Regions from separate parts of the Homo sapiens genome. Here regions 1 and 3 are each reported to be linked to region 2. The links are microRNA targets in miRTarBase. Many come from high-throughput screens and were not tested one by one. Region 2 holds a microRNA gene; each other region holds the end of a gene's coding sequence.

Evidence for each region. The annotated mature microRNA hsa-miR-555 reads AGGGUAAGCUGAACCUCUGAU and lies in region 2 at 2,133-2,153, opposite strand. An mRNA with a match to its seed (bases 2 to 7 or 8) in the 3' UTR can be bound and repressed. Matches are read on the target gene's strand: a 7mer-m8 pairs with bases 2 to 8, a 7mer-A1 pairs with bases 2 to 7 and ends in A, and an 8mer does both.
Region 1: the mRNA of TTYH2 is a reported target of hsa-miR-555. Seed matches in the 3' UTR shown: 7mer-m8 at 1,209-1,215.
Region 3: miRTarBase lists TVP23A as a target of hsa-miR-555. Seed matches in the 3' UTR shown: 7mer-m8 at 1,271-1,277.

Annotation. Positions count from the first base shown.
Region 1 is chr17:74,259,901-74,262,972 of GRCh38, forward strand. It overlaps TTYH2 (tweety family member 2), which reads left to right. Exons shown (of 14, transcript NM_032646.6): 14 at 229-2,120. The coding sequence ends at 309. Among named protein-coding and RNA genes, the nearest start is that of DNAI2, 13 kb to the right of the region's middle.
Region 2 is chr1:155,344,233-155,347,232 of GRCh38, forward strand. It overlaps MIR555 (microRNA 555), which reads right to left and starts at 2,213; the gene lies at 2,118-2,213. ASH1L (ASH1 like histone lysine methyltransferase) reads right to left here. Exons shown (of 28, transcript NM_018489.3): 21 at 2,151-2,237; 22 at 1-41.
Region 3 is chr16:10,767,517-10,770,588 of GRCh38, forward strand. TVP23A (trans-golgi network vesicle protein 23 homolog A) reads right to left here. Exons shown (of 8, transcript NM_001079512.4): 7 at 2,756-2,815; 8 at 1-1,585. The coding sequence ends at 2,756. It overlaps NUBP1 (NUBP iron-sulfur cluster assembly factor 1, cytosolic), which reads left to right. Exons shown (of 11, transcript NM_002484.4): 10 at 433-516; 11 at 1,531-1,835. The coding sequence ends at 1,589. Among named protein-coding and RNA genes, the nearest start is that of NUBP1, 25 kb to the left of the region's middle.

The sequences.
Region 1 (3,072 bases), not on the chromosome of region 2:
CTGGGGGTGTGTGCTGGGGCGGAGTGGACATTGGAGGACAGCTGGTCTGTGTGTGCATTTTTTATTTGAGGCTGGGAGGCAGAAGTCTTGATGGATGTGGGGTGGAGGCACGGCCGGGTTTCCCTCTGACACCCGACCCAGTTCCACTCTGAGAAGTCCCCGGCACCTTTGCTGGTGCAGTGCTTGGCTGACTCAGCTCTGACCATCCCCTCTCTTCTCTCTTGGCAGTACTCTCCCAGCATGAGAGCCACCTACCTGTCTGTGGCGGATGAGCACCTGAGGCACTACGGGAATCAGTTTCCAGCCTAACAGACTTTCGGGGGTTCCTGCCTCCTTTTTCCGTTCTGGTTTTTAATTAGTGCAAATACAAGCTGCGTTTCTTTAATAGAAACCAAAGGCATCTGGAGCCCGAGAGGCCTCCTGCTGTGGCAGAGGAGCAGCTGGGATTCCCGACCAAAGCCCCAGGGGGTGCAGAAGACTCACCACGCGGGCCAGCCTCTCTCTTTTGCCCTGCTCTCCACACCAGAAATGCCCCCAGGTGCTTGGCTGCCTCAGAGGTACCATCCCTGAGCTGGCTGCCTGGCCCTGCTCACCCCTACGCCTCGCCCTTGCCAGGAGGGGAGTGGCAGTGAGGAGGGGGCCAGGTCAGGCACCACCATCAAGAGAGCTGTGTGTTCTCTCTGGTCCCACAACGATGACTCTGCCTCTTGTCAGCCCAGCCAAGAGCCCAGACGACCCCTCTGTCCTCGTTCCCTGTCCTCGTTCCCTGCAGGTAACATGAGAAGGGCTGATCAGGAGATGCTCTTTAAGAAGTTCGCACCCCTGCTGACACCAGAACAGCCCAAATCAGAGTTCCCAGGGCCAGACAGGCTCTTCCTGGGCCACAGAGGGGAGGCATCAGGAAAGCTCTGCAGTGGGGGGCTGGTGGCTCCGGGGCTGGGGGATCACAGGCTGGTGAACCCCGGTGGGAACAGAGGTGAAAGCCTGCCACATTCCGCCTGTCTCCCTAACCCTCCATTGCCTCGCCTCTATTCCAGAATCAATGCTGCAGAATGTGTTAGCTGCAGATAGGCATGGTCTCAGGTATGAACAGACACTTTGAAACGACTTTAGGTCTTTCTTTTCTCCAGTGTTTTAAACATGTTGATTATCCAAAGAATTGAAACTCCTAGCACATCCAGTTTTTACAACAGATTTGCAGCTCATTCCTTACCCTGGTTAGGTCACTACTTTTGCAGATTTTGCTGGCACTGATCTGGAGATCTGCAGATCTGGAGGAGACGGGAAGGAGTCGATTCTTAAATAAGGATCAGTGAGGCATCCTGTCCCAAGCTACTGTTTGGTGGGGATCTGGGTTCATCTCACCCACAGAGGGAGGATCTTTAAGAGGAGAAAAAAGCCAAGAGGGAAAGCCAGAGTTCCCTGTTCTAGGGGACTAGCCAAATGCCTACATCAGCTGTCCCCTCCCTGTTGTCTCCAAGTAAGTTTGCCAGAAAAGGTTTTAGCAAAGTGCTACAACTGTGTCTTTATAGGAGGATAGGCCTCTGCCCTGCCCCACCCCCACCACCTGTCCCCACCCAGTGTCCCAGGCCACAGGAGCTTATTGGCCAGGAGGGAATAATGTCCCCCAATACTGCCTGTTGAGGGACCAGAGTTGGGGTCTTTGGTGCTTCCAACCTCCTGCCAACCTGGAGTTCACAACACCAGAGCCCCACGGCCTCGCACACTGAAGCAGGGGCGTGCGGTGACTCGGTGCTTCTGTTTTGGAAGAACCACCTGTCATCAAAACATGGACAGCAGGGTGTTCTCAGCTCCCAGCGAAGCCTCCACAACAGAATGGGGCCACAGGGCAGCCGGGACTCCCTGTCTCACCTACATTAACCCATGCATACTGTATGCCATAAACTCACTTTGGTATATCCGCGTCACATGCAGAGAGGAACTCTGCGACGTCAAAGTGTTGCTTCTTAAAGTTTCATTATTGGCAACTAGAGGGTTGTTTTTAATGCATGGAAACTAAACAGATTCCTCGGGGAGTTCCTGAAGGAACCAGGTGGGCAAACCTTTGCTTATATACATGCGGCCTCACCTGGAAGAGAAATAAACCACTTGTACTAAAATGTGCGTTCCGTTTCTGACTTCCACAGCTGCAGGAAATAACGAGGGTATTGAAAGATGGAGCGCTCCCCTCCGGCAGGGTCATGTGGTGGGAGGCTTAGAAGCAGATTCCAGTCGCGATTTCCGTGCCAGGACTGAAAGAGGGGCTTGAACGAATGTCATGGTGCTCTTGCGTGGCTTCCAGCTGCTCTTACAGGACCAGGGACAGGACTTATTTCTGCCCTGATCTTTCTCCAGAATTCCCCCTAAGGGTCACTGTTCTTTTTTTGTTCTTTTTGTTTTGTTTTGTTTTGAGACAGAGTCTCGCTCTGTCACCCAGGCTGGAGTGCAGTGGCGCCATCTCGGCTCACTGCAACCTCCACCTTTGGGGTTCAAGAGATTCTCCTGCCTCAGCCTCCCAAGGAGCTGGGATTACAGGTGGGTGCCACCACACCCGGCTAATTGTTGTATTTTTAGTAGAGACGGGGTTTCACCGTATTGGCCAGGCTGATCTCGAATTCGACCTCAGATGATCCGCCTGCCTTGGCCTCCCAAAGTGCTGGGATTACAGGCGTGAGCCACCTCACTCAGCCGTTAACTGCATCTCAATACCCAAATGAGATTGGCTTTGGGGGGCTTCCATTGTCTCGGAGCTGGAGTGGGACCTGACTTGTAGGCCGGCCCTGCATGAACTAGGAAGGAAGCCTTGGGAATGCACAAGCCGGAGTGTGGTCTGATCACTACGCGTGTCATCTCCCTTTCTCATCTCAGCTGCATTAGTCTCTCCCGCAAGGGAAAGGAGTGGGGTGGGGAAGTGGGTTCTGGGCCCCTGTTTTGCCTGCCAGTCTGCAGGCAGGCCCACCTTTACCCTCCTAAACGTCCTCTGAACAGCCATTCTCTCAACAGCAACCTGACTGCAGACCCAGAACAGCCAGCTTAGGAGGAGAGACTGGAGCTTAACCTGCTCCTGGAGAG
Region 2 (3,000 bases):
CCAGGTTGGGCATAGTGGGGCCGAGGGATCATGGGAACCTCCTGATAGGAGCAGAAAGCCAATGTATAAGGGCTGGAATTACTACATTCAGCCTACTTATTTCTCAACCTAGAATTCTCAATCAAAACTTACTGTTTAGTCATTTCAATATACCACAGATATACAAAAAAGATGAAAGCAACTAGAGCTGTTAAACCTGGAAAAGTGAAGGTAGAGGACAAAACTGATAGGCTAAGTATCTCAATCTATGTTTTATGAAGCACTAATTGTGTAGTTGCTCTACGTAATCTAGGGGCCATATGAAAATGTGTGAAGGGAGACTAATTATTACAATGATTGGGGTATGCTACTGGTATTTAATGCCCAGGGTCCAAGGAAGCCAAACATTCTGAAATGCATCCCTCACAACAAGAACTATTCACCTAAACATGACAACAGCAACATTGTTAAGAAATACTGCCTAAATCTCTTCTTTTTTTAAAAATGACTTGCCCAAAATCACACATATAAAGATAGCAGAGCCAAGCACAGAACCCACTTAATGACTTAGGCAAGCCACTTACCCTCTCTCCTATGAAGTGAGCCTAACACTAACCTTTGCTGATTCTGAGTCCAGTGCTCTTTTCACTTAAACCACTGTCTAACATAAATGACGTTAAGGGTACCAAGTTCTGGATTTTGTAAGCTATTCCTTTCATGGACATCTGATAGTGTTTATAAAAACCTCAGTTTTGTTTTTTTTTGAAATGGAGTCTCGCTCTGTTGGCAGGCTGGGGTGCAGTGGTGCGATCTCGACCCACTGCAACTTCCGCCTCCAGATTCAAGTGAATTCTCCTGCCTTAGCCTCCCGAGTAGCTGGGACTACAGGCACGCAACACCACGCCCAGCTAATTTTTGTATTTTTAGTAGAGACGGGGTTTCACCATGTTAGCCAGGATGGTCTTTTTTTTTTTTTTTTTTTTTTTGGAGACTGAGTCTCACTCCGTCACCCGGGCTAGAGTGCAGTGGCGTGATCTTGGCTCATTGCAACCTCTGCCGCCCAGGTTCAAGTGATTCCCCTGCCTCAGACTCCCAAGTAGATGGGATTACAGGCGCCTGCCACTGCACCCGGCTAATTTTTTTTGCAGTTTTTAGTAGAGATGGGGTTTCACCATATTGGCCAGGCTGGTCTTGAACTCCTAACCCCATGATCCACCCGCCTTAGCCTCTCAAAATGCTGGGATTGCAGCCGTGAGCCACTGCGCCCGGCCGAGGATGGTCTTTATCTCTTGACCTTGTGATCTGCCCGCCTCGGCCTCCCAAAGTGCTGGGATTATAGGTGTGAGCCACCATGCCCAGCTTTTTTTTTTTTTTTTTTTTTGAGACAGTGTCTTGCTCTGTTGCCCAGGCTAGAATGCAGTGATGCGATCTTGGCTCACTGCAACCTCTGCCTCCTGGGTTCAAGTGATTTGCCTGCCTCAGACTCCTGAGTAGCTGGGATTACAGGCACCTGCCACTGTGCCTGGCTAAGTTTTGAATTTTTAGTAGAGACAGGGTTTCACCATCTTGGCCAGGCTGGTCTCAAACTCCTGACCTCATGATCCACTGCACCCGGCCTTTTTTTTTTTTTTTTTCTAAGAGATGGGGTCTTGCTCTGTCGCCCAGGCTGGAGTGCACTGGCATGATCTTGGCTTACTGCAACATCTGCCTCCCGGGTTCTAGCAGTTCTCTTGCCTCAGCCACCCAAGTACCTGAGACTTCAGGTGCACGCCTCCATGCCCGGCTAATTTTTTTTGTATTTTAGTAGAGATGGGGTTTCACCGTGTTGCCCAGGCTGGTCTCGAACTCCTGAGCTCAGGCAATCCATCCGCCTTAGCCTCCCAGTGTGCTAGGATTACAGGCATGAGCGACCGTGCCCGGCCAAAAACCTTAGTTTTATATAGTGCCATTCCTTCCACAGATTTCTAAGTATTTTATTTTCCCTTTGGTCATACTCCTGAAATAGGGAAGAACAGAATTATGACCCTTAATGTAAAGTTTAAGAAACCAAGGCCCAGAGAGGCTGAACAACCTATTAAAGGAAATTCTGCAAAGCAGGAGCAGGACAGGTGAGATACCATGTGCTACCTCTCCTACTTATAGATCAGAGTTTTATCAGAGGTTCAGCTTACCCTGTCCACAGGCCTTGGGTCACACTGCTCACAAAGGTAGTGCTCCACATCTGAGTTCACTCCCATACAATCACAGTGCTGCCATACCTGTAGAAAAACATACAGTTTGGGGAACATGGAGGCTATGACTTATTGAGAGTGTCCTGGGAGCCCAGAATAAAAAATTAGCAATAGGTCAGGGTAAAGTAAAAGAGGAACTAAGGGATAACTGGGTGAATGATAAATTAGAGATAAATGGTAAAATAGGAGGAAAACAAAATAATGACTGTTCTAAGCAAAAGTATACCGATTGACTCATAATCTATAGATCTGGGCAAATAAAATGGGGAGATGGACAGAGAATAGGAAAACAAATAGACTACTGAACTATTACTAAGTAATTTAAGTAAATGCTACAGCTATTCTGCTTTCAGAATACAGCTACAAAATGTTTTATTTACTCCTGTCTAACTTTAGCCTCCCAACAATCCTGTGCGTTACTTACAGCCACTTTACACATAAAGTTATGCATTCACATATATTAGTGGGGACACTAAGGCTCAAATCCAGGCTTTGACTTCTTCATCAGGAGCCCTACATGTATTAACATATTTCACTCTATCAGAGGATTCAATTAATAGAGTGTATTATCACTAATGATTCAAAAGGCAAAGCACTATATGAAATACTGTCATTTTCCTTGATCCAGATTATGTGAGAAGTGTACAGTGGAAAGTGGGCAGAAAGAAGGAAAGAGCCAGGCGTGGTGGCTCATGCCTGTAATCCCAACGCTCTGGGAGGCCGAGGTGGGCAGATCACTTGAGCTCAGGAGTTCAAGACCAGCCTGGGCAACATGGTGACACCCCATCTC
Region 3 (3,072 bases), not on the chromosome of region 2:
CATAATCTTTCTGGAAAGACACCTAGAACACTAGTAGCCCTTTTCGGACTTGGCCTTTTATGCCATATCCTTTTGCATTCTGTACTTTTTTTAACCATGTGCATTCATGATCCTTTCACTCAAAAGCTAATCTCTTAAAATGCAGACTCCTGGGCCCATGTGGAAGCTGCTGAATCAGTTCTCTGTAGGGCCCTGGAACCTGCATTTTCTGTACACCACCTGATTATTTAGCCACGCTGAAATGCTGGCTGGGGACCCTGCTGGAAGGAAGGTCCCTGAGACCCCACTGGTCTTTTCTACTTTGTTCTTCATTACGAGTGAAGCGGGCTCAAGATCTTCCCATTGTCACCAGCACGGAAAGAGCCCCAAGATCTTGTGGCCATTCTGTTTTCCTCTTGGACTGAATTGTCTTCCGTTTGTTTCTTTTTTAAGGTAAGAATTGTGACAAAGGCCAGTCTTTTTTCATTGACGCCCCAGATTCCCCAGCCACGTTAGCCTACAGAAGTATAATTCAGAGTAAGTATTTCCATGAGTACTAAATGCAGATGCCTGTGGGGCAGGAAGCAACATAAAGGAGCCAGGGGTGTGGAAGGACAGGTGGGTGGTGGGGTCTGTGATGACCACAGAGTGGCCCCCATAGCCGAGGAAGCCAGGAGTCCATGAGAAATCTCTCAATGTGTGAGTATTGTGAATTAATTCATAGTTTAAAAAACATGGTGAGGGTGAAATTTATGGCTTAGGAAATACATCCCAATAAAGGGATAAAGTAATTCATTTTTAAAAGTAACTGATAAAAAAAAAAAAGGCCAGGTGCAGTGGCTCACACCTGGAATCCCAGCACTTTGGGTGAAGGAGGCAGGCAGATCACTTGAGGCTGGTCAGGAGTTCAAGACCAGCCTGGCTAACATGGAGAAACACTGTCTCTACTAAAAATATGAAAATTAGCCGGGTGTGGTGGCGCATGCCTGTAGTCCCAGCTACTCAGGAGGCTGAGGCAGGAGAATCGCTTGAACCTGGGAGGCGGAGGCTGCAGTAAGGCGAGATCGCGCCACTGCACTCCAGCCTGGGCAACAGCGTGAGACCGTGTCTCAAAAAAATAAAAAATAAAAATAAAAACTTTGTTGAGCCAGACCAAACCCACGTGCAGGCCACATTCAGCCAGTGGCAGCCATCAGAGGCCCCAGAGTTAGGGCAGAGGTGTCAGTGTTTGTTAAAGCTGTGGTCTCTGAGTTTGTGGCTGGGTTTTACTTGCCTAGAAGAATGATGTCAAGGGTAAGGAAACAGCATTCCCAGAATCCTCCATCTATAGATGGTCCGAGGAAGGCCGCAGCCACTGGTTATGAGCAAGATGGGTAGTGTGAGGTATTCCGGTCACTTTCAAAGACTCAGGGCATCACAGACACAGGTCTTTTTATGGAACTAGCCAGAGGATTCCACCCCTGTCAAAACACAGCCCTCCCCAGCACAGGACAGGGCTGTCAAGGGGTAGACAAGCCATTAGCACTCTATGCCTGTCGTCTTGTTTTCCAGGAATCCAAGAGTTTTGTAATCTCCATCAGTCAAAAGAAGAGAACCTCATCAGTTCCTGAAACGAGAGAATGTTCAGGACCAAGCAGTTACCGAGCGAGGCACTCACTGGGCAGCACATCCAGCCAGACCCGACCAGCTCCGGGATGGGGTGGGTCACAGCAAAAGGACCAGATGCTGGTGTGGTCCGAAGCCACTTTCTCAGAGACACTTTAATCATTGAGTATTTGTACACTTTTCTTTAGAACATATATAAAGGGCATTCTCTACAAATGTGCCGTTTTAAGAATAAAACCCCCTCAAATCTCTCCCCCGAGGCCTGTTTCACGTAAAAAACAAATGGGTTGTGGGATCGTGGGATTCTGCTGTGTCGGAAGCTTAGTCGATTGTAGAAACTCCCGTTTAAGCCATTTCTGCCTGTGAAGATAAGAAAGCCTAGAAAAGAACCAAAGGGGTGAGTGTGCGGCTTCACTGCAGAACACACAGGCTTGTTTTCAAACACCACAGTCCAAACGCTTTTCTTCAGATTGAGGAAAAATCTAAAAGCAACAGAGCTCAGGCTGGGCTTCGTTCTAAAATCACTGCATATGACACAGCTGGGTCAAATCAAAAAGCCCTTGAAGAGTCCTTGAATCACCCAGTAAGACAGAATGTGGGGTCTGTGTAAATTCCCTGTGTAGTAATATGTGCACAGTATATCCAGTAATGTCCAGTGTCATGCAAACCAACTTTCAGGTTTTTTAATTATATAAAAAAGAGGGACAGATGTAAACTCTACGATCATCCTCTTTGCCATGAGGTGCTTGCTCTGTTTGAGACACACAGGATCTGAGACCACGTGGGAGAAGAGTAAATTCCTGTTTTCCCTCCACTCTGGGGCATAAAAGTGGGTGGGTGGGAAACAAGAACAAATCCCCTTGTTCTTTCCCTCCCTTGTCTCTTCCCTCCCCGCCCTTCCCTAGGACCATACATATGATCAGATTTGCACATGTTCAGTGTGAGGAAGGTGTGACCTCGCCCCCCGACCCCCAGCTCCTCACGCCAAGAGCAATGAGGCTGCAAAGCCCAGGGCAGGCCCATTGCCCAGTCTGCTTCCTGCCTGGTCACATGCCTGGCCACCCCAGGGAACAGGGGAAGCCCACCCAGACCCCGGGCCCCTGTGCCCCAAGAGCTGCATTTTTCAGAATTCCCCAGTTCCTCCACACGGGTGCCATGATCCATTTCTCACCTAATGCTGGTGAATCTCCAGCCCCTCGAGGCCAGGCTTCTGAAAGTCACCTGGGCAGGCCTGCAAGGGGAAAAGTCAACCATGGTTTTCTGTCCTTACACGCGAGTGGGGCGATCCTGCTGATGGAAGGCCAGAGAAAACCCACAAAGTACAGAAAACCTGCGGAATTGGTTGCTTGATGTCTTGGCATAAAGCAGTGCTGTTCAAATTTAGGACGGTTCTACCCATTTCAGGATGAACCTGGTCAAATTTCAAAGACTTCTGTCTCTCACTTTTAGAAATATCTATTAAGTTAAAAAAAAAAAACAAAACAAAAA